Regions from separate parts of the Homo sapiens genome. Here regions 1 and 3 are each linked to region 2. Evidence: fine-mapped QTL for protein levels in blood plasma. Region 2 holds a variant in brackets. A gene starts in each other region. All regions are shown on one strand. Distances are from middle to middle.

Region 1 (8,012 bases), 31 Mb before region 2:
TTCAATAGTTTCTTAAAATGTTAAGCATTGTAATCCCAGCACTTTGGGAGGCCGAGGCGGGTGGATCATGAGGTCAGGAGATAGAGACCATCCTGGCTAACAAGGTGAAACCCCGTCTCTACTAAAAATACAAAAAATTAGCCGGGCGCGGTGGCGGGCGCCTGTAGTCCCAGCTACTCGGGAGGCTGAGGCAGGAGAATGGCGTGAACCCGGGAAGCGGAGCTTGCAGTGAGCCGAGATTGAGCCACTGCAGTCCGCAGTCCGGCCTGGGCGACAGAGCGAGACTCCGTCTCAAAAAAAAAAAAAAAAAAAATGTCAAGCATATATCTACCATTCGACCCAGAAATTTCGCTCTTGGGTATATGACTAAAAGAAACAACAACATATCCACAAAAAATCTTATATAAAAGTTCATAACAACCTTATTACTAACAAGCAGAAACTGAAAATAACCCCAAATGTCCACTAATTAGAAAATGGATATACAAAATATGGTATATCCATACAATAAAATACTACTGAACAATAAAAAGGAATAAACTGCAGATAACTTACAAAATAAAGAATACATCTCAAAAGTAATATGTGTGCAAAAGAAGCCAGATGTAGAATAATATATATTGTCTGAATCCTTTTATAGGAATTCCAAGAATATGCAAAGTGAAGCCACAGAGAAACATAATCAAAAGTGTAGTTACCTCTATGGGTTGGGGCTGAAGGTGTAGATTGAACATTTCTGATCTGTGCTTTTAACTGAATGTAAATTATACCTCAACAAAATTTTTGAACAGAATGATACATTTATGGTCCAGAAGAAGTCAATGGTAATTTCACCACCTGTTCAATGAACTAGGCATAGAATTGGAAATGGGAGACCATACTACAAAGCTCATTTTTAAATTTTAAAGCCATTGCAATGGTCAAAACTTGTGAAACATGATAGAAATTTTGATAGATGTGCCTCTAGTCATCCATAGAGAAAAGGTCAAGAAATTAAAAACAAAACACAAAAAGCCCATTTCACACATAGAAGGTAAAAGACTTATGTGTGTCTGCTCTTCAGTGTCATACCTGCATCTTGCATCCACATCTTTTCTATGATGGGCTGCACATTGTATCAGCATTGTTTGTGTATGTATGAACCTTGCTCATTGTTTCTCTAGGGGCCACTTAATTAATGTTCATCAACTTAATAAGCAAATCCTCAGCTGAGCTATAATTTCTCATAGCTTTATAAAACTAAAGTGACCTTAGGTGGCATGTGGTTGAGTCTCCTCATTTGCTAATAAAAATATTGAGGTTCAAAATGGTAGAGAGATGTACCCAAGGTCACACAAGCAGGGAACAGCAAATATGGGCCCTCAGATCTGACTTGAAGTCTGGTGCTCTTAACACTATGCAGTACAACCTCCTCAAAGGCTCACCTACTCCTTGACTCTCTGGGGAGAAGGTTTCATTACTTCCTATATACCAGTAGACCTTTCTCTAATCAGTAGAAATACATTTATTCTGATGGTTTTCTGACTGAGAAACTATCAGAAGTCCTGTCCCTGAGAAAAGGGTATGGTTGTTTATGTACGTAATCCTCCGGGCCAAATAAATACAAATCAAGAATTTAGCCTGAAGACAAGACAAGTAATTGTGGAAATCAATATTGGCAGGCTCTTTCTATCTGTGGTTTACTTTTTGGAGTCCAGCACTGTATTAGTCAAGGCTTCTTCAGTTGAAAATGACAGGAATCCAACTACAGCAAGCTTAGAAAAGAAACAAAAATCTATTGGCTTGAAAAATGGCATTTCTACCTTGAGACGTAGCAGGATCCATGGAGTCTTTCAAGTGTTCTTTCTCCATCTCTCAGCATTGCTTTTCTGCATGGAAGGAAATACAGTCACTGACAACTCTATACCTATACCATCCGATTCACTATTGTTCATATGACACATCTCATGGAAAAAAGCCTGATTGGAAATATTTGGGACATATGACCACCCTGTATCAATCACTATACATTAGGAGAACAGGTTCTACTATAGAGTTAGCCAGGGTCACATGTCCACCTCTGAGAAAGAGAAGAGAGGCACACATTTTACTAGCATATGGGGAATCATATGAAAAGGATCATTACTCTAAGGAAGGGATGCTTTGCTGAGGGAAAAAAAAAAGTTCACTTCAACACAAAGATCCCTCCTTAAACCAGAAGCCTAAACATATGGAGTCCCCTCCTAAAGTTGTTTGACATCCCAGGGCACTGACTCCTGCAAACTGTATTTCTTAGGCTGCTTTGTCAACTGACTTTCTTCTAGGTTCACCCAATGACAGGGTTTTGAAATACAGGTTAAAGGAGGGCCACAATATTTCTTTTCACTCTCAGCTTTTGGAGGACCCTCCAGCATTATCTGTCTCCCAGTAAGCATCTCCACTGTGGTCTCAGTTCCTTTAATGTAGCTTGTGCTCCTCATTCCTGGTAAAGCCTCCTCTCTAGCACTCCCCAGCCTGAGAGTGGTAGTACTTTCCTGCTAGTAACTATCATCGTGTTGCCTCATCATCCCCTAGTTGGCTTTTTAGTCATTTGAATCCTTTGTAATTTGTTCCCCATATTAAATTCTCTCTATTGAATTACAACATATAGATGCTATTTTTCTGAAAGAACTCTAAGATGTGTGTCGAGAGGAGGCAATCTCCCATATAAGGACCAGGTTCCCCAAAGAGAAAAGCCATTAGAGTTTGGCTGCCTCAGCTAATCTTAAAGTGGAGGAAAAAACAAACAAACAAACAAACAAACAAAAACAAAAAGTGCTGAGGAACACTGTACTTTAAACTATCAGAGAAATAATGTCTTTTTTATTGCTGTTTTTTAGAGACAGGGTCTCACTCTGTCACCCAGGCTGGAGTGCAGTGGTGTAATCATAACTCACTGCACCCTCAAACTTCTGGCTTCAAGCGATACTCCCTCCTGAGCTGCTGGGATTACAGGTGTGAGCCACCGCTCCTGGCCCTGGAAAATTACTCTCATTGAGCACCTGCGCCTGCATGCCTGGTCATGAATGTCAGCTGCTAACACTCTGGTAGCATGCCTACTCCTTCCTCCCATCCACATACTGTCTATGATTTCCTAGTCTCCTAAGACCTCCTTCTCAGTAAGGCCATCTTCCGAGGAGGAGCATCAACTCCTCCAACCTCCCAGCTCCTGGGTGTGCCTTGATACTTCCAAACTCACTGCAAGCGTCACTGGCACATGGTATGAAGCAGAGCGGGGGAGGCAGGACACAGAGCACTGGGTGTGACTGGGGAGGGCAGGCTTTCACAGCTTCCTCTGTGATGGTTTCTAATCCTTGCAGGCTCCCACCATTGGGTCTCTTTCCATCTGAAAATGGAGGAAATTAGACCAGCTGCCTAAAACATCAACTCTAATGTTCTAGGTTCTAAGATTCTGTGGTTAATTTAAGTGACAGAACCACATTATGGCTGCTGTTTCATCAGCACTGTGAAGACTGTACAAGCCACACCTCAGTATGTTGGCTGACCTTAAAAACACCTTGTCAGTACTTGATATAGACACTCGAAGTAATTCTAAGTTGCATCTTACTTTTCTTACTTACAATAAAATGCTGCTCTCTGATTATGAAGATTCATACTCCTTAGTACGAATGGTAAAGAATCATTTGTTTTCTCAGGTGGTCATTTCACTTTCAAAAGCATTTAAGAGGCAATTTTTTTAAGGGTGATATTTCAAGGTCAACACTTTCCGTGCTTTCTAATTCATTGTATTTGTATCATTCTTCAAAGATCCTTCATATTCATTATCTTTTTAAGCATAAGAGAATTGGGCTGTCATTTTTAGTTCTCATATGACACATGAATACACTGAGAGTTAGATTAAGTGAACTGTCTCTAGAGCATACGTCTGGCTATCTAGAATGTAATAACTATAAAGGGAGGGGATCTTTCTTATTAGGGTTGTGGGAAAGGTCTGTCACTGATGTTTCTAATGCTTAGAAGAGTGCCTGACACATAGTAGGTGTCAATAAACATTCGTTGACTCAATAAATGAATGAATCTAATTCGTGACAGAGCTGGGTCTAGAATTCTCTACTCCCTCAGCCATTGCTCCTTTAGTGCTGACAAGAGTTGTTCTATGTTCTCAAGCGCCCCACATTCCTTTGTCTTTTCTGGATGCACCTGTGGTTGGGTTTGTGAGGCGAGGCCAGTGAGCTTTCCTGGTGAGGTGCCACTGGCAACCCCGCCTCATAGCGACACAGGGGAGGGAAGCAGGGGGTCTGCGGAGGTTGCTCCCGAGAGACTAAAGCTGTTGCCCCCGATTTTCCAAGGACGCCAGTGAGGAAGGCCCGCCTGTCCCGCCGCCCGGGCACTGGCCTCACTTTGTCGCGGGAGGGGACCAGGGCTCTGGAGAAGGCCCGGGCCAGCGGCTGGGCGGGGCTCTCCGAGGCTCCCACCTCGCGGTCCCCGCCTGGCGGCCGGCGGCTGCGGCAGAAGGCGAAGCGGTCGTGCTCCCCCTCCCGGACACTGCGGCGGTGGCAGCGCCAGCCCCGCCGCGGCCGCCCACGGGCTCGCGGAGTCTGGCGGGACCTGCGCGGGGCGGGACCTGCGCGGGGCGGGGAGGAGGGGCCGAGGCGGAGCTGCTGCGCTGGGAGCCGGCTGGGGGCGCCGCTCTCAGTCTGGGGCGGGCGCTCGGGCTGCGCGGGCTCTGGGCAGCAGCAGCAGCAGCAGCAGCATCCTCTCTTCCTTTACTTCCCTTCCGCTTCTTTCTCTTCCTTCTCCTTCTTTTTCCCCCCCCTCCCCTTCTTCCCCTAACCCTTCTACCCCTCTCCTTTTTCTCCGGAGGGCGCTAAGTCCGTGAGCGGTGGCAGTCGCGACCGCGGGTGCATCCAGTTTCTGCGCCCAGGTAAGAGACCGTCCCCACCTCTGGCTCTATGTAGGGCGCCTCTCCTTTTGCCTCGGTCTCTGAGTAGAAAGAGATAGGAATGGGGAGGGGTTGTGTCTCGTCCTCTGGGACTCGCAGCAGGCAGTCTGGTAGTTGGTCGAGTGGCCAGCCGTGCACCTGGCGGAAGATTCGGGCCTGTCCTCTCCAGGTGTCACTGCGGAGCAGGGGGCCGGACGCTACTGGTACCTGAGCCCTGGCTTCGTAGAAGAGCGAGTGAGCTTGTTAGGTACCACTTTGAAACAACTGAAAACTTACGCCAGGTTAGAATACGTGTATCGAAAGCCAGTATTACCTGCGCTGTGGAAAGAAGGGGAGTGGATTCTACAAAGATAGTGGAAAATAGGAAATCGAGGTAGGGGATTTTTTTGTTCATCCAGCTGCAGAGAACTGCACACTGGGAAGTGAGTGAGTGAGGGAAGCCTTGTCCATTTCAAATCATGTTTCTCTGTAATTCCTTCAGAAACAGCTGGGAGAGGAGGACTGATATTTATAATTGTAGGAAAATGAAAAATAAATGCCTGGTGGTGTTGGAGGGCGGGGCACGAAGAAATGAGTCTGGTTAGGCTTCCACACAGTCGTTTTTCTTTTTAAACGTTGGGGGTGGACCTCTGAATCTACAGTGCATCTATTCTTTTCTTCCTTTTCTTTTTAAAAGGCTTTTTTGGTGGGGAGAGGAGGACTGCAGTGCTGGCTGCCTGCCTTCCCCCACCTCGTCTTTTGTTTAAGGATGGAAATTTCAAGAAAGAGTGTGTGGGGGGCTAGGAGTGGGGAGCTGTATATTTGGGTGTGTATAGGGGGAGGGGTATGGATGGAGTCAGAAAAAAAATCCTTGAAAACTGGAAATTAATGTTATTCTGCCTGGCATCCGGACTTCAGGATTTTTGTCAGAAAATAAAAAGCTTTCATTAGCAACAAGCCCGTTTGTGACAATTGCTGTGTGCCATCTGTCGTAAGCTCTTAGCACAATGCTTCCAGGACATAGACGCTTTAAAATTGAGTCCGGTGTAAAGGGTTTTTGTTTAAATGCCTAAACACACAAGTATGCACACAAATGTATAATACACTATATACATGTTACAAAAGGAAATAGGTACTTAAGAGACTGATTTTTTAAAATTGTATTTGAGGGTTTGGAAATTATGTTGTGAATAAAATCTGTAGTGCAAAACAAAAAAATATTGTTGGGTGGTATATAATTTTGGGTGTGAGGCAAAGGGATTGATGACTGTTGGTAAGGAACTAATTTAAATGTTAAAGGTATAATTTATTTTAAAATGATCAGTCTAGAAAAGGAAATGATTGCAAACTGAAATTGAGGTTTGCAGCCACAGTGAGGCGATGGAGAACAAAGCCTTCTATGTGAGCCACATTATGCAAAATGTCCCATGCATGAGCTGCAGGTACCAGCCCAGTTCAAAAGCATAGTTCTTTCACTATGTCATTTCACTGTGGACAATTATGATTTTTTTTGGCAGTCAAATAGATTGAATAAATAGAAGCCCTTTAGAATGCTTTTAATTTTATGCCCAGGGAAAAGATTACAGCCTTCCATCAGAATATAACACAAAGCAGCCCTTTAACCGGGCAATAGGTGTATTTTGGTAGAAATCCTTGTGAATTTGCAAATCATGGATGTTCCAAAAGCCCCAGCCCCATGCACACAAAGAACCCTTCCTTCAAGAAAAAAGGCATTTTTCTCATTCAGTAAGGATTATTATATTTGTGTGTGTATGTTTATGTTGATTTCCTGGTAATTTCATCTGATTATCATAGGTGTACATCTGCATTCATGATTTGTATATTATCAGAGCCATTGTGGCTTTAGGATCAGTGGTACATGCTGTTTATCTGTGGTTTATTTAATTTTAATTTTTCATATTTTACAGTTTGCTACAATATTATTTAATGTCCAAAGTTTTCTTTTTTAAAACCATAAGTAGAAAATTGCTTAACACACATCTGAAGATCTAAGTAATTTAAAAATAGAGCTACCTTTTATAAAATAATATTTTAGTTATATTAATTTTTATTTTATTTATCTCCTCTCTTATTTTTTTCCCTTTTCTAATCAAATAACCTGTTTCTTTATGGCTGCTTTAGTCTTCTATACTGCCATAGGAGGGCCAGTGTTTTCAAGAATTTTGAATTTAGGATTGTTCATTCTCTGCAGCACCTCTCAGGATGACTTGTTTACAGCACCTTCTCAGGGAGGAGACAGGGAAAGAATGTGCTGAAAGAGCATGACCCAGTGAAACTGGCACAGCCATTACCTCATCCTAGTAGGTACTTCAGATTCATTGAGAGAGCAGGCATCCTCTCAGTGGAAACCAAACACCAGGAGCACACCCATCTCAGGGCAAAAGCCTTTCTCTTCCCATAGCAGCCTTTACTAATGTCATTCCACTGAGGTTAAAGGGATATTTTCTCTTTTATGTATTCCTTTTCAGGGATCTTGAACTTGGTTAGAAATATGTAGCCAGAAATGAAACTTGGCACAGAATCCTCTAAGCCTGAAGGAATAATTTCATTCCTTTACCCCTTTTGGTTTAAACCAGTTCGCAAATTTTCTAAACATCAGAAGGGAAAAGGAAGAAAAATGTTGGTGTATTTTTGTGTATTTTCTTATCACACACACATATTTTGTATTGAATTTTACTAGCAGTTAGACAACAGACTGGACATGCTATTAACAAATGTAGTTGCACTGTTGGCATTTTAAAAAATCATTATTACATTTGCTTATAGGACAATAGGTGCATCCTTCAGTGATTCATTGATGTCCTTTTGAGACTGACCATATGAAACTGACATGGGGATTTTAGTATTCAAGTTGGTAACTCTGATTATTGAATCCTTTCAATACTTAATTTCCTCTTAACAGATTAAGATAAAGAATCTGAAATAATAGTTACAGTAGAAGATAGCACCACCCCCAGATCAATACTATCCTCCTTAATGCTAAAAGTAGTCACTTTAGGTAAGTCATTAGTAAATGCATGAACCTGAAGATAACAGTTTTGAAACAATCTCAAATTTTTTTGTCTCTGTTATAGATTAGTTAAAGATGCTA
Region 2 (7,709 bases):
ACCCAGATCCCCACTGCCTGATGTCCTGGCTGTGGAGGGCACCTGGAGCTGCCAGCAGAGCCTCCTGCCCACCAGCTGCTGAAGCCACAGTACATCTCCTTCCTCCCACCTCCCAGACCTCTCACTGGTCTCATCTGGGCACCGAACATGGGAAGCCCCTCCTGTGACAGGCAGGGGAGAAGGAGGCTGTGCTGACAGACGGCCTGGTGAGGGAACCCGGGAGGCCTCCAGCATCTGCACCCCTCTCCTACTTTGATCTCTGTTTCACCAACATTGCACCCCAACTTAAGGTCACATAGCTACTGTCAAGCCAACAAGGTGCTGCCTCTCCCGCCGTGTGAGGGTGGAACCCCATAAGCCACCACTGGAGGCATCCAAGCATGTTGATTCCTTCTCTAGTTCAGACACCACCTCTCCTGGACATCCTGTGGCCTAAAGACTATCCTAGAATCAACACTCCTTAAATAGGAGTGGGGAAAGAAAAGGAAAATGTGTGTAATACATGTGAATCACAGATAACGTAGTCATTGGTTAATATATACAACTACGCGTATTTACATTCTGTATGCGTCAATGAGTAAAATACTGTGGTTGGTGCTTATCTGCCTTTTCCAATACTCGTTCCATGTTCTACCCTCAGCCAGTGCCTAAGCTGCTTATGGCCTTCACCTGGTGGCATGACTCGATCCTTCATTTTTAAGGCCCCAGGCCCTGCATGGCTGCCCACACAGGTGCTGTGGCCTCCGTTACCTGTACTGCACCACCAGAGAGAAGTAGGAGGCACCACTCTTCCTGGCCCCCAAGCCTCACAAAGCCTCATGCCCACCTGCCAGAGCCAGCCCTGTGTTGTCTCATGCTTCCGTGGCTGGGCCGTGTCTGAGCCACCCTCCCAGTGAGACCCGATTGTGTTCCTAAGCAAAAGCATCCCACCTGGGGACCGAACATCTCTGATGCGGCAGAGCCCAAAGCTGGGGGGATGGGAAGCACGGGTTTTGTCAGCCAAGCGTGGGGGTGGTAGTGAGAAGGGCCTTCTCCCTCCCCACGCCTTGTGTACCTGGGCCTCAAGCATAGGCCACACCTTGTTGGTCGCTGCCCCTCTATGCCGTGTCACCAGCCGGCACCACCCATCGCTGTGGACCGCGGCCCCCATCACAAGCTGGTGCCCAGGGCAGTCCCCATCTCTGTGGAGGGCTTGCCTGCCGCTGGCCTCTCTAGATAAGCTCCTCATGACTCATGCAACCTTTTCATCAACCCGGAAGGAAGCAGCCGCCGGTCGCCACTAGTGGGTGAGGAACAGTGGCTTGGAGAGGAGGGAGGACCTGGGTCTGCGGTTTCCCCCGCGGCTCAGCCCTGCTCACAACACCCTGATGAAAACCTCGGCTGCCCTTGCCTCAGGGCAGGGCACACCCTTTACCTGCTGACCTGGCCCTGGTGACAAGGGGACAAGGGCAGCAGGGCCCCGGCCAGGTTGAAGGACACCTGTGGGTCACATCAGACCTTTTTAGCCCACCAGCTCCATCTGAGAACTGGTAGCTCCCTGGTCCTCTGTCGGGGTTGGGCGCGGCCCTGTCTGAACACTGCTTCTTCCTGGAAGCTTTGCTGCCCTCCCCAGCCTGCTAAAACGCTCCATGCCCACACCCACCTCCTAGTGGGTGAAGCCAGGAACCCCTCCCTCGGGTGCATCAGGGGAAGGCTGGGGTGCAGATGCCGCGCAGCCACTTCACTGCGCTGATCACCAAAAAGCTGGAGTATGAAAACTCCTGTGGGAGAAAGCCAGGGCTGACAGTCGCGACGTCCAGGCTCCTCTGCCAGGGTTAGAGAAGTCAGAGGTGTCTGCCCAGGCCTGCATGCGGCGTAGCCTCCCGCCGCCAGGGGGCGTCAGGCCGGCGGGGGCGGGGCCTCCTCGGGCGGGGCGGGGCGGGGCGGGGCCGGCGCGAGAGGCTCCCGCGGCTCAGTTGCAGACCCCGCCCCCTCGGCTCAGCCGCGCCTCCCGCTCCATGGGGTGCAGTAGGGCAGCTCCTCACATACGTGCGCGGTGGGAGGCGCTCCCTTGGGCCCCCGGGGAGGAGGTGCCACAGCAACTCTGGACTCCTGTGTGCAGAACTGGCCGCGGAGAGGTGCCCAGGGCGAGACCCCAACCTCTGCTCCCTGAGCCCAATGCGGGGCTCTGGGTGGCAAGACCCCAAGCTCCCTGTGGTGACTTGCCCCCCGGACGGCCAGGCCCAGCTAGTGTGGCACCGCGTGTGCAGAACTGAGGTTCTTCCAGCCAGGAACATGGCCCGGTGGGCTCTGGAGAGCCCCGTAGAACTGGGGGTGCCATCGAAAACAGTCTGCCCTTGGCACTGCAGGGCCCCACCGGGCAGGGCGCTGGGGGCAGTGAGGAGGGTCCCATCTCAGCTGTCTTCCCTGTCAGCCTTGGATGCGAGGCTGATCCACACCTCTGAGTGACTGTGTAAGCCTAGGGGTTCCTGGTGAGTTTGGGATGGGTGCCCCAAGATCGTGGCCGTGTCCCTAAAGAGGGCACGTGGGGACCTGAGGTCCTACGGGAAAACTGAAATGATGCCTCAGTGCTCTGTCCCGCAAACGTGAACGCACACTCTCCCTCTCAGCCTTCCTTCCCGCCCCACGGAAGGAGGGTAGACACAGAGGGTTACACAACGAGGAGACTGAGTCCAGACACAGGAAACACTACTCAGGGCTGACGCTGAGTCGAGTGCGGTACCCGAGTCCAGCCCTGCACGGCCACACCTCAATGGAGCAGAAGAGAGAGGTGTCCTGGGTTCCTGGATAGTTCCCCAGCCCCAGAAGCCCCTTGTCCCTAGGAATTTGAATTCTTACTTGATGACAACAGCGACATCATGGTGGCCCCTGTTATTCCACAGCCTCAAAATTTAACCGCTGTGAGCTCACTAGCAGCTTCTGCCAGGCGAGCACCCCTTCCCTCGGGGCTCAGGCTCCTGGACAGGCTCAGCCTTGGGCAGCCTTCGCCAGGTCCACAGAGAATGGCGTTGGGAAGGGTGGACCTGGCGGATGGGGTGGGGACAGGCGGGCCAGACCCTCCTTCGTACCCCAGCACAGGGCTCCCAAATGAGAGGTCCCCAGCACTGCCCAGAGGAACTTCTGCGATTGTGGAAATGATTCCTGCCTGCTTTGTCCATTAGCCACTCCTCCCAGGAAGACACACACACTCACTCACTCCACCTGCCACGAAGGAACTGAACTTCTAACTGTATTTAATTCGCATCTAAATGGCCACACGTGGTTGGTGGCTGCTGTAGTTGACAGCGCTGCGTGAAGGCTCCGGCGCTTCTCGCACCGCAGGGCCCACAGCACAGACCACACCTGTAGACTTGGAGGAGTGGCAGGGGTGCCAGGAGAATCCTGCCCTGCCCGTAGCCCCGGATGAAAGGATGACATTGAGTTCGCGACGCTGCGCTCCTCGGGAACACGAACCACACCTGGAAGCAGCCTGCCCCTGTGGCCCCAAGGTTCCCGGGTCCCTTCAGCGGCTGCCCCAGGGGCCTGGCCGGCAGTGTCTGGGAGGGAGCAGCGATCCCGCCTCCTGGGATCTCCCGGGCGCCGCCCGGGGAGGAAGCGAGGGGCTGGGGGTGCTGCTCACCCGCTCCGCGCGCCTCGGCTCCCAACACAGCGCCCCGGCCCCGCGCCGCGCTCGATTCCCCGGCTCCCCGCGCCCCTGGCTCCTGGCCCTCCCCGCCCGGCGCCCCGGCCCCGCGCCCCGGCCCCGCGCACAGCGCCCCCGGCGGCGGCCGAGCGGAGCCCGAGCGGGGCGGCGCACGGCGCGGGGCCGGGCCGGGCGGCTCCCGGCGCGACTTCCTGTTGTGCCCGCGCCCCGCCGCCGCCGCCGCCCGGCGCCCCTCGCCCGCGGCCCGGCGCGGCCGCCGCCCATGGATTTCACCTAGTGCCGGCGGCCATGGCCGCGCAGTGCTGCTGCCGCCAGGCGCCCGGCGCCGAGGCCGCGCCCGTCCGCCCGCCGCCCGAGCCGCCGCCCGCCCTGGACGTGGCCTCGGCCTCCAGCGCGCAGCTCTTCCGCCTCCGCCACCTGCAGCTGGGCCTGGAGCTGCGGCCCGAGGCGCGCGAGTTGGCCGGCTGCCTGGTGCTCGAGCTGTGCGCGCTGCGGCCCGCGCCCCGCGCGCTCGTGCTCGACGCGCACCCGGCTCTGCGCCTGCACTCAGCCGCCTTCCGTCGCGCCCCCGCCGCCGCCGCCGAGACGCCCTGCGCCTTCGCCTTCTCCGCCCCCGGGCCGGGGCCCGCGCCGCCGCCCCCGCTGCCCGCCTTCCCCGAGGCGCCCGGCTCCGAGCCCGCCTGCTGTCCGCTGGCCTTCAGGGTGGACCCGTTCACCGACTACGGCTCCTCGCTCACCGTCACGCTGCCGCCCGAGCTGCAGGCGCACCAGCCCTTCCAGGTCATCCTGCGGTACACCTCGACCGACGCCCCCGCCGTGAGTCCGGGGCGGGCGCCGGGGCTGCGGGCCGGTCCGCAGGGCGCTGCTAGCGGCCTCTCGCCGCACGGCCAGGCTGAGGGACGCGAATCTGCGCCCTACAGGTGCCCCCCTCCCCCCACCCCGGTGATTCCCAGCTGTTGCCTGTGAGCCCTTAGGACCCTCGGATAGAAGCCGGAGTCCTGCGGGGACACGGGACAGCATGTCACTCCGGGAAGCCTCCCGTTCAGGTGTCTGGTCCCTGCCTGGGGACATGAGCAGCTTCTGTCACCCACCGAGGTGTACATCTGCAGGATCCTGGCACCAAGGGTTGGGCTGGAGTGTCAGCTGCGGAAGGGCCTCCATGTGACCAGTGCGTGCAGATGAGTCCAAGCCAGAGGCAGAGGAAAGGGCCATGGAGATTGTGATGCTCGGTTTGGGGCTTCCTTGGCCAGCACTGGTGGAGTGTTGAGACCAGTGGGCCCCGCGACCCCAACATAGACACACATAGGCTCTGCAGGGCTTGCACACTGGGTACCCACCACTCCAGAGACTCTGCAAGAAAGGCCAGGTGGCTGAGGCTGGCGCTGTGGCTGCAGCACCCCCTCCACCTCCACCAGTGGGGATGTGTACAGGATGGAGCAGGGCCTTTCCTGCCTACAGCATGGGGGTTCATACTGCATCCCTAGGTGGTATGGACGGCACACATGTGACACCCGACATATGCAAGACACACACAGCTGTGGAGGCGCTGGGAAGTCCAGCTGTCACTGGTCACGGCACATAAATGGACAGGGTGGTGGAGAGGTGGTCGAGAGGCTTCAGGCCACAAAGAGCCAAGGTGACATCTGGGCAGGAAGAACCCAGACCAGTGCACCCCTATGGGCTTCCTGTACATTTCCCAGGAGCCCTAAGCAGGACCTGCCACCTCACCTTTTTCCCAGAACCCCTGTGGGTGTGCAGGCCGCTGGCTAGCCGGCCCCGCCCCTGCTGTGGTATTCCAGGGCTCTGACCGGTGGCAAGTATGCCTCCCAGTATGACAGGTGAGAACTGAGGGATGGGCTTCTCCTTGGCCTTGATCCGTGTTTGGAGCCCACGTGTCTGGTCCGCCCAACACTGGCCTGCAGAGTGGCCGGACCAGGGCCCTCAGCAGGCTGCTGTGAACGGGGCCCAGTGAGCAAGGGTGGCCATTGTCTCTTGGCTTCCTATGGCCTACTGGGTGGCCCTTGGGTACTCTGGGCAGGGAGAGTGGCATAGTCCCCCAAGTCTGCGTGGTGTCAGGGTTGGCAGGCTGTGGACAGGGGGCCTAGCGTCACCTGGCCTGTGAGCCGCCCTACTTGCAGAAGGCAGAGTATTCGACTCTAACCTCAGGCATGCACCTTTGTATGTGAGCGCCATGGGGCTGGGGCCACACGTAGAGTCCCCTTCTCTTCCTGCATGTTCCAGGGACTCAGGCCCAAATCCCTAAGCCTGTCCCTGTGCCAGGGAGGATGCAGCGGAAGCTCCCTGGGAGGCCCTGCCAGTGGGCCCCAGGCCCCCAGAGGCTTTTTGGAGGTGCTGCAGATGCTTGGGCCCATTCCCGCACCCCCACCCCACCCCAGCAAGAACAGCGTTCTTCCTGCCCTGCAGCGTCTGGAGCCCTTCAGCCTTGTTCCTTTTCCACCAGCCCATCAGCACCTGTGCCCGGGTGCCCTGACGGGGATTGGTGCCCCATCTGTGGGGCAGGGCCTGTCCTGTCTGGGGGTCTGCCCCAGCCCCTCACTTCAGGGCAAGTGGGGAGCTGTGGGCCCTGCTGGTATCTGGGAAGACACCCAGGCTACTGAGGCTGTGGGGTGGACATGGGGCAGTAGGGAGAGGTGTGAGTGGGCAGAGCCTGAGAAGGGCCTCAGGAGGGTGAGGCAAGGCCACAGGAGAGGAGTAGTTGTGAGGGGGCCGTGCAGGCTGAAGGGTTGGGGAGACTCCTGCAGGGAGGTTCCTTCATACAGATTCCCAGGTCCCAGCCCCCCCCAAGGGGGAGGCTGCGTTTGTGAATGGCTCCCCAGGTGGGCCCTGAACACCCTGGCAGCCCAGGGCTCAGCAGGAATGGGAGACGCCTGTGCTACCTTGCTGCCCAGCAGGGCCAGGGCACCAACAGGAAGTTTGGAAGAGATCTGAGAATGCTGGCAGGGGTCTGGCCGGGACTGCGGGGGAGGCAGCCCTCCTGGTCTGGGATCCTCCAGGCCTCAGCTGTGGATTCCACTTGTCCAGTCTTAGAAGCATGTTGGGGGCACCTTCTACTCATGGTCATGGGAGGGCCTCTGCACGAAGAGCAATTCAGTTTGCCTTGACTATCTCATTCCGGCAGAGGGGAGGGTGGATACGACGTGCAGGGCTGACTTGGGACGAAGGTGAT[G/A]TGGCTGTGGTTGGAAGAGGGTCCCCCTCCCAGACTCTGAGCTGCCCTCACTGGAGAGGTCAGAATTCCTGGAAGGAAGATGAGACGGGTGCAGCAGGATAGTGGCAGGAGGGCCCCGGGTGTGCAGGCTTCTCAGTGGGGCTGGGGCCTGGCCTCGGCATCTAGGGGTGAGGAAAGCCTCAACAGCTTTGGTGCAGATGAGAGGTTTGCCGGGGGGGTGACCTTAGGTGGGTAGCAGCTGCTGTGAGCGCACCCATTCCACAGCACTCACCGCAGCCCCCGGCCTCCAGGCAGCGGCCCCAGCCATCCTTCCCTTGGCCGCTCCTGTCCCCTGCCAGCAGGGTCCTCTGGCCTGGCCTCCACTCCCTGCTTGCTGTCCCCTGGCTTGGAGCCTGTCTCTTGCAGGGTCCCTCCAGGCGAGGCTGCCTGGGCTCAGGGTGGCTCTGGGCCCGGGCGTGCTGCCTGCTAGTGCGTAGCCATCAGGAGGCTCTGGCTTCCCAGGTTCCACATCCCAGCCTCCTTTTCCTGACCATGACCAAATCAACTGCTGGGAATTTGGACTGAGTGTGTCCCTACTGTGCCTCAGTTTCCCTATGGAAGCTAAGATAATGCAATGATGGGCTATTCCCTTTTTTCGCCTTGGCGTTAGCTGGGAGATGCCCCTATCGGCTACCTGACACAGGGCCTCCTGCCTGGGTTGGGGTCTGGCCCTGATGACACAGTGCAGGCCACACCCTGGGTCACCTGCCCTGGATGTCTCCCTGCCCAGGCAGGCAAGTGAAGGCTAAGGGGTGGCTATTGGCCCTCGAACCCAGCAAGATAATCTGGCCATTGTCCCCTCCCAGAGCCTCCTGCCTTCTCTCAGGCTGCTGCCCAGTG
Region 3 (7,770 bases), 100 Mb before region 2:
ACAGGGTTATGACATCTACTTGGATTATTAATGTCATTTAAGCTTTTCAGAATTATACCTTCAGATTTATGCCAACCTTACTTAAAATTTCATTTAGAGCTTTCCTGGAATTAGAAAGCAAAAAAGCTTTATTTACTGTCACATAGCTACTAACCTGGTTTTTCTTGTGATTGTATCATTGAAGATATTCCATATCTCTCTTTAGCATAATCCTACAAAAAAAGTTTTTTGCATCGTGACTTTTTATGTAAACACTAAGAGCACAGTAAACACATAAATACTAATAATAGAATATAAAAATGAATTTAACTTTCAGGATCATTTTATTAATTCAGAAAGTCAGTAGTTTCATAATGTGGAAATCTCTCATTCATTTACATATGTACTCTACAGAAAACAGAAAAGTACTGTTTCTGGTTAGTTTGTTTTGAAGATCACCACTCCTAGATGGATTTACCATACTTAATAACATTCTCAGATAAAATTTACACATATGTACAACACATCTTAACTACCTTCTTCAAAAAGATGAAACTACTTCAAAGCAGGGACATAAATTTCCTCTGTGAAGGGAGTAGGATGAAGTACCACAGTTTTATTAACTTCCTATTACAGGAAGAAATGTTCAAAGAGAACCAACGTTTTGGGTAAGCTTTCTGAGCACCAGATGTCCACAGTTTTTAGAAACTGGAGATGCTGGGTATAAGCTAACTACAACTTTCCTTTTGTAAAACATCATCAAAAAATTCACCAGCTTCCTGTTTCTAAAAACCAGATTCAGGATACCAGGTTACAGGAGTTTGACACTGACAATATAATAATATCAAATTTCTTGTTACAGATTAGAGTTAGGAACAGGAAACAGAAGACCTAGGGTCCAATCTGTTAACAAAATATACTTATTAAATAGATAAGTGGCCTTTATTTCAATCTTACTTTACCTCTAAAATGATCTAAGATTCTTCTAGCTATAAAATGGCATAACTCTGCCACAATGTCTACCTTGTATCTAGACCTATACTATCTGTAAGGGTACACTGATAGTTTATGTAATTAAGCAGATTAAGAGTACACAAAAATAATTGCCCTAGTTTTTACAAGGTAACTTAAGATCTGTATGAAACAATTAAGTTTCTGTCACTTTACAGCTACCTGTTGGAATCCTCTCCTTTAGAGCAGGAGGGTGCTGGATTTTGTGTTTACACCAAAATAAAACCAGACATGTTTAAGGCGCTTACTGAACAATTTAAAGAAAAAGATAACCCTGGCCAGAGTAGAGAGATACAGTCACACAATGAAGCCTGAGGGCAACAGAAGGAGATTAAATTGTGTGAAGGACAAAAAAGTTGCATTCATAATTAGTACTATTAATATTTCAGTGACTCTTCCTCATTTAGTATTCTAAGATGACCTTACTTCTCATGTTGCTTACCACAAACTCAGAACTCCTTATAGAAAAATTAGGGAGCCAGACGGAAATTAAGGCTTAACAGTACTACAGCACACATAACTTGTAGGATGGTTTCAAACTTTGATTTCTGAAAAGCACCGAAGGATCACTGGGTGTTATGAATTATCCACGTGATTTGGGGTCACTTCACCTCAAATGCATTCTCGGTAACTCCTATTACCTACCTTACCGGGTCACTGAGAGGGAGAAAGTAAATAAAAATGACATGTGTTCTTTAAAGCTGTCACATGGGAAATGGTCATTAAACATATTGGCAGATGGTTTTGCTAAGTACTGTCATTACTTGCTAAAGCATTAGGAACACGAGGGCTGAGTACATATCGATTACTAGTGCTTATTAAAATTTTCCCAGGGATTGTGCATTACGTGCAGGACGTGCCTAACCCAGAGAGACTCAAGTGTGACGCCGCGCTCCTACTTCCGGGGCGGCTGGTTCTTCCCGTCCTCCCCACCCCGGGGACACGCTTCTAGTAGGCCAAACTCCCAGGTGACCCCCGCAAGAAACGCGGTCCGGAGAGGGTCTGGCCCCACTGCTGGGGCAAGGGCTCTAGGCGCCCGGACCCCACGCCCGCAGCCTGCGGAGAACGTGCCGACAAGGACCTGTAGGGCCCCACTCCCCCTCCTCCCTCCCTCGGCGCAGCCCGGCCCAGGGGTCTGTCCTCCCAGGCCCAGGAAAGGAGGAAACCCACTTCCGCCGCGTCCATGATCTCCCGCGGCTTCTCCTGACTCTTGCGGCTGGCGCTGGCGCTGGGCATCGGGACACGGAACTGGGCAGTGGACACCACCCTCCCTCGCAGGCTTCCGTAAGGCAGGCCAAAGGGGCTTCTCCCTCCCTCCCAGTCTCCGCCCTCCCGACCCTGGGGTCTCAGCACACGCGCTCGGACTCCGCGTGGAGGTGCGGCTCCAGAAAGATCGCGAGAGCTGCGGCTATCTCGAGATCCCGGAGCGCTGGCGGCCGCGCGCAGGGTCTCCTCCCACTCTTGCCCCGCCCCTCCGGGAGTTTTCCCGGAGTTGGAGGGAATTCCCGGGAATTCGCGGTAGTTTCGCTGGATTGGCTCTGGGGGCGGGGGCAGGGGTTACCAGGTGGCTGGCTGTAGACCTGGGCGAATGCCAGCTCTCTTCAGCTTCGTCCCAACTGCGACTTCTGCTCCATTCTTCTAACAGCCCTTTCAACTCCGCTCGGCTGTAACCGCAGACTCGTCACTAAAACACCCACCTAAGCGCGGGCCTTGGTTTCTCCTCTCTTGGACTTTCCCGCCTTCTCTCTTCCCCTGGGCGACGTAGCTGCTTGGGGACGGAGGAGGCCTCTTCGCAATCCATTGCCCTGCTTGTTGGGACAGAGGAGTGCAGTTGGCTTGCCAAGGCAGCATGGGTTACCAGTCCCTGTGTAAGTGAGGTGTAAATACAGTGGCAACGACAACAAGAAACGCATACAATTGCATTGATTGCCTGGATCTGTTGCAGTGTTAGGGACAGTGCATAGTGTTGGTTGCCCAATGGGCGAATATCCCCAAGTTAGGCTTTTTTAAAAAACTGATTTTTTAAAAAAGCTATCATTCATGAGTTTTGAATCGAAATTGAAAATAATTTGGAGATTTGGTTTAATACTGTTTCCCCTGCCAGAGTTTGCACTCCGTCGTTTCAACTGACTTGGTAGTGTCTTAGTCTGGCACAAAGTGTTAAGGGGTGCACATAGATCCCAGCGCAAGTGAAAGGCTCTCTCTGGAGGCTCCCCCATGGAGTAGTGAGAAGACAGCCATGGTCCTTGCTTGCCTGTAGCTTTCCTTCTAATTGCAGGTGGTATGAAATTTTATTCCCTATTTAATTGATCAAAGATTATTTACAAACATCTACTTTGTGCCAGGCATTCTATCAGGTGCTGGCAATAAAAAGATAAGTCCTAGTTCCTGTTCTTAATATTACACAGGTACCTAGGCTGATAGATGCGCCATCTTGATACATGCTTCCATTATTACAGAGTCAGGAAGAGAATTTAGCTCTTAAAATGGCTGCCTGGAAGTGACACATTTCACATTCTCCTAGTTTATTGGCGAGAACAAGTCACATCGTCATTCCTGAGTTCATGGGGGCAGGAGAATTTACTCATTCCTTGGGGAGCAACACTGAATATTCATGATCAGTATCACATTCCGTTAAAAAAGGCATCCCATTATACTCATGGGATTCGAATACAGAAGGGGGTCTGTGAAGTTGCTTCATCTTGGAATTTTTTTTAAAACTTGGATTGCCTCAATCAGGTATAGTCCTAATGTATGGACTGGTTATCAGAAATCTGAATACAAATCCCATCTATTATCCCTTTGCTAGGGTAGCGATCTTACCTTTCCATCTGTCCATGAGGCCTGTCCATGTACTTCTTTCTTACTTTGGCCCCGTTGCCTTGATAAAAGTATTCTTATTTAGTCCTGGAATAAGACTGTAAATATATATTCTTGTTTCTGGCCTCCTTTCCTGATAGTGATAGAAAAGAAGCATTTGCCAGATCAGTGGCCACATGTCATATGCCTGAGGTCTTAAGAATCTGCTGTAGTAAAGATACCACAGCTGCAACTGAGGCTGTGACTTGGTTGAACTTGCAGTAGTCTACTGTCAAGTTCCTGAATTTGTCTGGTTTTTGCTGGAGCCACACCGGTGACAATAGGAATGTGATGGAGACTACCAACCATTACGTCTTTAAGGGTTGCACTGATCTCCACTATTCCCCTTGGGGACATGTTATTGTTTATGATTTCCTATCCTAGTTGGGGGCTGGGAAAGTGACTTTTAGAGATTTCCTCTTAGCTTTATCCGGTATGGTAGCCTATTCCACAGACCAAAGAATAGGGGAACAGCTCTGCTATGGTGCTCTGGCTGCTTTGCAGGATCCACATAAGCCATGTAGGCAAGGGCGGGAACTGCAGCTAACCTGAATCTTGGAAAAACATCTTGTGATCCTGCTGGAACATGAGAGGGTGGAAGGCCATCTCCCACTCACTTCCCTGTCTCCCTGAGAGGCTGTTATGGGATGGTTTCTTACTACCTCCTAGATTCTGATGAGGTGTGGGACTTCTTGCCCCCTTCCCTCAAGGGAAATGCAGAATACAAAAATGTATATAATATCTTACTGCTTAACTGGAGTCTAGAAGTGGCTGTTAAGCAACAGAGTGTCCCACTACTCATGTTGCAGTCATTTGGTGCCTTTTGTTTCAGTGATGTCCTTAATGGGACAAGAATCACAGGGAGCTGGCAACTTTGGCTTATTCTTCTTTCTCTCTCTCTTTTTTTTAATTTAATTTTTTTTTTTTTTGAGACAGAGTGTCCCTTTGTCTCCCAGGCTGGTGTGAAGTGTCATGATCTTGGCTCACTGCAACCTCCACCTCCCAAGTTCAAGTGATTCTCCTGCCTCAGCCTCCCGAGTAGCTGGGATTACAGGTGCCCGCCACCATGCCTGGCTAATTTTTGTATTTTTAGTAGGCATGGTTTCACCATGTTGGCCAGGCTGGTCTCAAACTCCTGACCTCAGGTGATCCGCCTGCCTTAGCCTCTCAAAGTGCTGGGATTACAGTAGTGAACCACCGCACCTGGCCTTTTTTTTTTTTTTTTTTTGAGGCAGGGTCCCACTCCGTTGCCCAGGTTGGAATGCAGTGGTGCGATCAAGGCTCATTGCAGCCCCGACCTCCCGGGCTCAAGGGGTCCTCCCACCTCAGCCTTTGGAGTAGCTGAGACTACGGGTGTGCACCACCATGCTCAGCTAATTTTTGTATTTTTTGTAGAGATGGGGATTCACCATGTTGTCCAGGCTGGGGGCTTATTCTTGTTTTCACTGTCTATGTAAGTAATAAACCATCTAAATCTAAAAGCAGCATGTTACAGCTTTACTGATGGAATCATTCAGGCCTTGACATTTCCTTACTTGTCCTGTGTGTTCCTGTCTTGACAGGAATCAGCGTCGGACTCTGCCAATTTCCAATACAATATCCATCCCAAACTATACATTTAGGGAGCTGGAAAATGACTTTTGGGTAGGTCCATGGACCTAGTTGTTGCTGTTAAGAGGGTTGAAGTGCCATTGTGGTTCTTTTATTTCTTTATTTTTTTCAAGACTGGGTTATGAGACTAGCTAATTTTTTTGTTTTTTAGTAGACATGGGGTTTCCCATGTTGCCCAGGCTGATCTCGAACTCTGGGTCTCAAGTGATCCATCCGCCTAGGCTTCCCAAAATGCTGGGATTACAGGTGTGAGCCATTGCGCCCAGCCACCACTTTGATTCTTGGTCCTTTGTATGTGGTTCTTTTCCCCCTGGAAAAGAAAGAAGCTCACAGGACATCTGCTAAGTAGACTACATGGGTCCTTCTTTGTTCCTAATGCTCAGGAATTTCATAATATTTATCAGCCTGGGGGTTTAAATTTATCATTGTGCTGGACATTGGGCCATTCCATCTGGAAGCTCGTTAGTTCTGGGGCATTTTCTTGAAAAAAGTCTTTGATGATTCTCTACCTTCCATTTCTTCTCTTCTCTGTTTCCTGAATTCTTATTAAGTATTGGACTTCCTGAGCTGGTCTAATTTCCTTATAATTTCTCTCCATTTTTCCATCTTACTGCATTTTGATATGCTTTTGGGAGATTTTTTCAACTTTATCATATAGTCTTTCAATTGCGTTTTTCCCATTATTGCCATCATTTAATAATTTCCTAAAGCACTCTTTTTGTTATTTGAATGGTCCTTTAAAAGAATAGAATCCTGATCTTTTAAAATGTATATAATATCTTCTCATCTTACTGAGCATATTAATAAAGTGATTTTTTGGGGAATTTTTAAAAGCGTTCTCTCTACATAACCCCTTTCTTACAAGTTGCTTTTCTATTTGTTTATTTTTGGCCTCTGTCTTCCATGTTAGAGACCTACCTCAGGTGTTCAGTGAATCCTTGATTGTCTGCTTATGTTAAAAGTGGGGACTAGGCCCGGTGCGGTGGCTCACGCCTGTAATCCCAGCACTTTGGGAGGCCGAGACGGGCAGATTATGAGGTCAAGAGATCGAGACCATCCTGACTAACACTGTGAAACCCCGTCTCTACTAAAAATACAAAAAATTAGCCAGGCGTGGTGGCAGGCGCCTGTAGTCCCAGCTACTTGGGAGGCTGAGACAGGAGAATGGCGTGAACCCGGGAGGTGGAGCTTGCAGTGAGCCGAGATTGCGCCACTGCACTCCAACCTGGGTGACAGAGCGAGACTCTGTCTCAAAAAAAAAAAAAAAAAAAGGGGAGACTAAAAAGCTGATTAGAAGCTCTCTGAGCACTTCCATGGGGTTTGTCCATTGTGGATTTTACTGCATGATGGTCTGGGTGGGCCATTTGATGGGTGTCAGTATTTTTAGATCTTTCCCTTTGGCTAGTCAGATTGTTCAGGGAGAAAGCTCTTCTGATCTGCTGCATGAAGAATAAAGGTCTCACTGCTAGTGTTCTGGGAATATCTGGCATCCCACATGTATTTGGTCACCGAATTCCCCTAGTTGGGTACAGTACCCAGTTCCTGAAGTCAAAGACCCACCTTTTACCTTCTCTACAGAATCCATCATGTCAGGGTAGGAGAGGACTCTTGCCAAAAGAGTAGAGTATGGAGGGCTGCAGGAATCAGACTTCTCTTGTAACTTTCCCCAAATTGTCATTATCATTCCCACTCCCCATCTCCGTTTCCAGAGGTATTTGGTGCTGCTTGTCTTGAGTCTTTTGTGATTTCTGTGGTATGAGTGAGGTCACTTCTCAGCTTTCTTGACTGCTCCCTTAGGATTCAGCTTTTCATATCTGCTAAGTAGGTTACCACTGGCCCACCTGCTGCTTTTTGGCTTCCTGCATTTTTGGGGGGATTGTCTCCTCTCCTGTTCTCCCATCCTCTCGATTATAGTTTTTGTGGCATTAAGGGCAGGAGCAAGATTAGATCTGCCATCTTAGTGCAGAAGTCACTTTTCATGTTTTATAACCTCAGTGTATACAAAGTTTCTGGTTGATGACTGTAGTTACCAAAATTTATACCAATGCTTATACTTTTTTTTTTCTTTTTCTTTTTTTTGAGACAGAGTCTCACTGTGTCTCAGCTGGAGTGGAGTGCAGTGGCACGATCTTGGCTCACTGCAGCCTCCGTCTCCTGGGTTCAAGAGATTCTCCTGCCTCAGCCTCCCAAGTAGCTGGGATTATAGATGAGCACCAGTATGCCCAGCTAAGTTTTGTATTTTTAGTAGAGATGGGATCTCACCATGTTGGCCAGGCTGGTCTTGAACTCCTGACCTCAAATGATCCGCCT

Alleles and levels. Alleles are on the strand shown, and positions count from the first base shown. The strength of an association depends on the size of the effect and on how common the allele is.
In carriers of allele A in region 2, the plasma level of the protein whose gene starts at base 4,674 in region 1 tends to be higher than with G alone (weak association).
For the plasma level of the protein whose gene starts at base 2,384 in region 3, allele A in region 2 goes with a lower level than allele G (weak association).

Evidence for each region. PIP is the posterior inclusion probability: the model's chance that the variant is causal. Protein levels are from antibody-based Olink assays in UK Biobank. Linkage for the fine-mapping came from a reference panel and not from the study's own genotypes, which makes the PIPs less certain.
Region 1: it holds the start of MAP2, and the variant in region 2 is fine-mapped to the plasma level of the MAP2 protein (UK Biobank, PIP above 0.99).
Region 3: DARS1 starts here. The variant in region 2 is fine-mapped to the plasma level of the DARS1 protein (UK Biobank, PIP above 0.99).

Annotation. Positions count from the first base shown.
Region 1 is chr2:209,419,374-209,427,385 of GRCh38, forward strand. MAP2 (microtubule associated protein 2) reads left to right here and starts at 4,674. Exons shown (of 16, transcript NM_001375505.1): 1 at 4,674-4,903. RefSeq lists a silencer at 4,355-4,744.
Region 2 is chr2:240,564,656-240,572,364 of GRCh38, forward strand. It overlaps RNPEPL1 (arginyl aminopeptidase like 1), which reads left to right and starts at 3,829. Exons shown (of 11, transcript NM_018226.6): 1 at 3,829-4,459. The coding sequence starts at 3,932. It overlaps DUSP28 (dual specificity phosphatase 28), which reads left to right. Exons shown (of 2, transcript NM_001370465.2): 2 at 1-601. RefSeq lists enhancers at 1-115, 246-325, 4,276-4,914, 4,786-4,965, 4,915-5,553 and silencers at 1,796-2,035, 3,546-3,805, 3,836-3,895, 4,036-4,225, 4,466-4,515. The variant G/A (reference allele first, on the strand shown) is at 6,831.
Region 3 is chr2:135,983,243-135,991,012 of GRCh38, forward strand. It overlaps DARS1 (aspartyl-tRNA synthetase 1), which reads right to left and starts at 2,384. Exons shown (of 16, transcript NM_001349.4): 1 at 2,161-2,384; 2 at 155-212. The coding sequence starts at 2,226. DARS1-AS1 (DARS1 antisense RNA 1) reads left to right here and starts at 1,934. Exons shown (of 4, transcript NR_110199.1): 1 at 1,934-2,274. RefSeq lists a silencer at 2,021-2,080 and an enhancer at 2,131-2,230.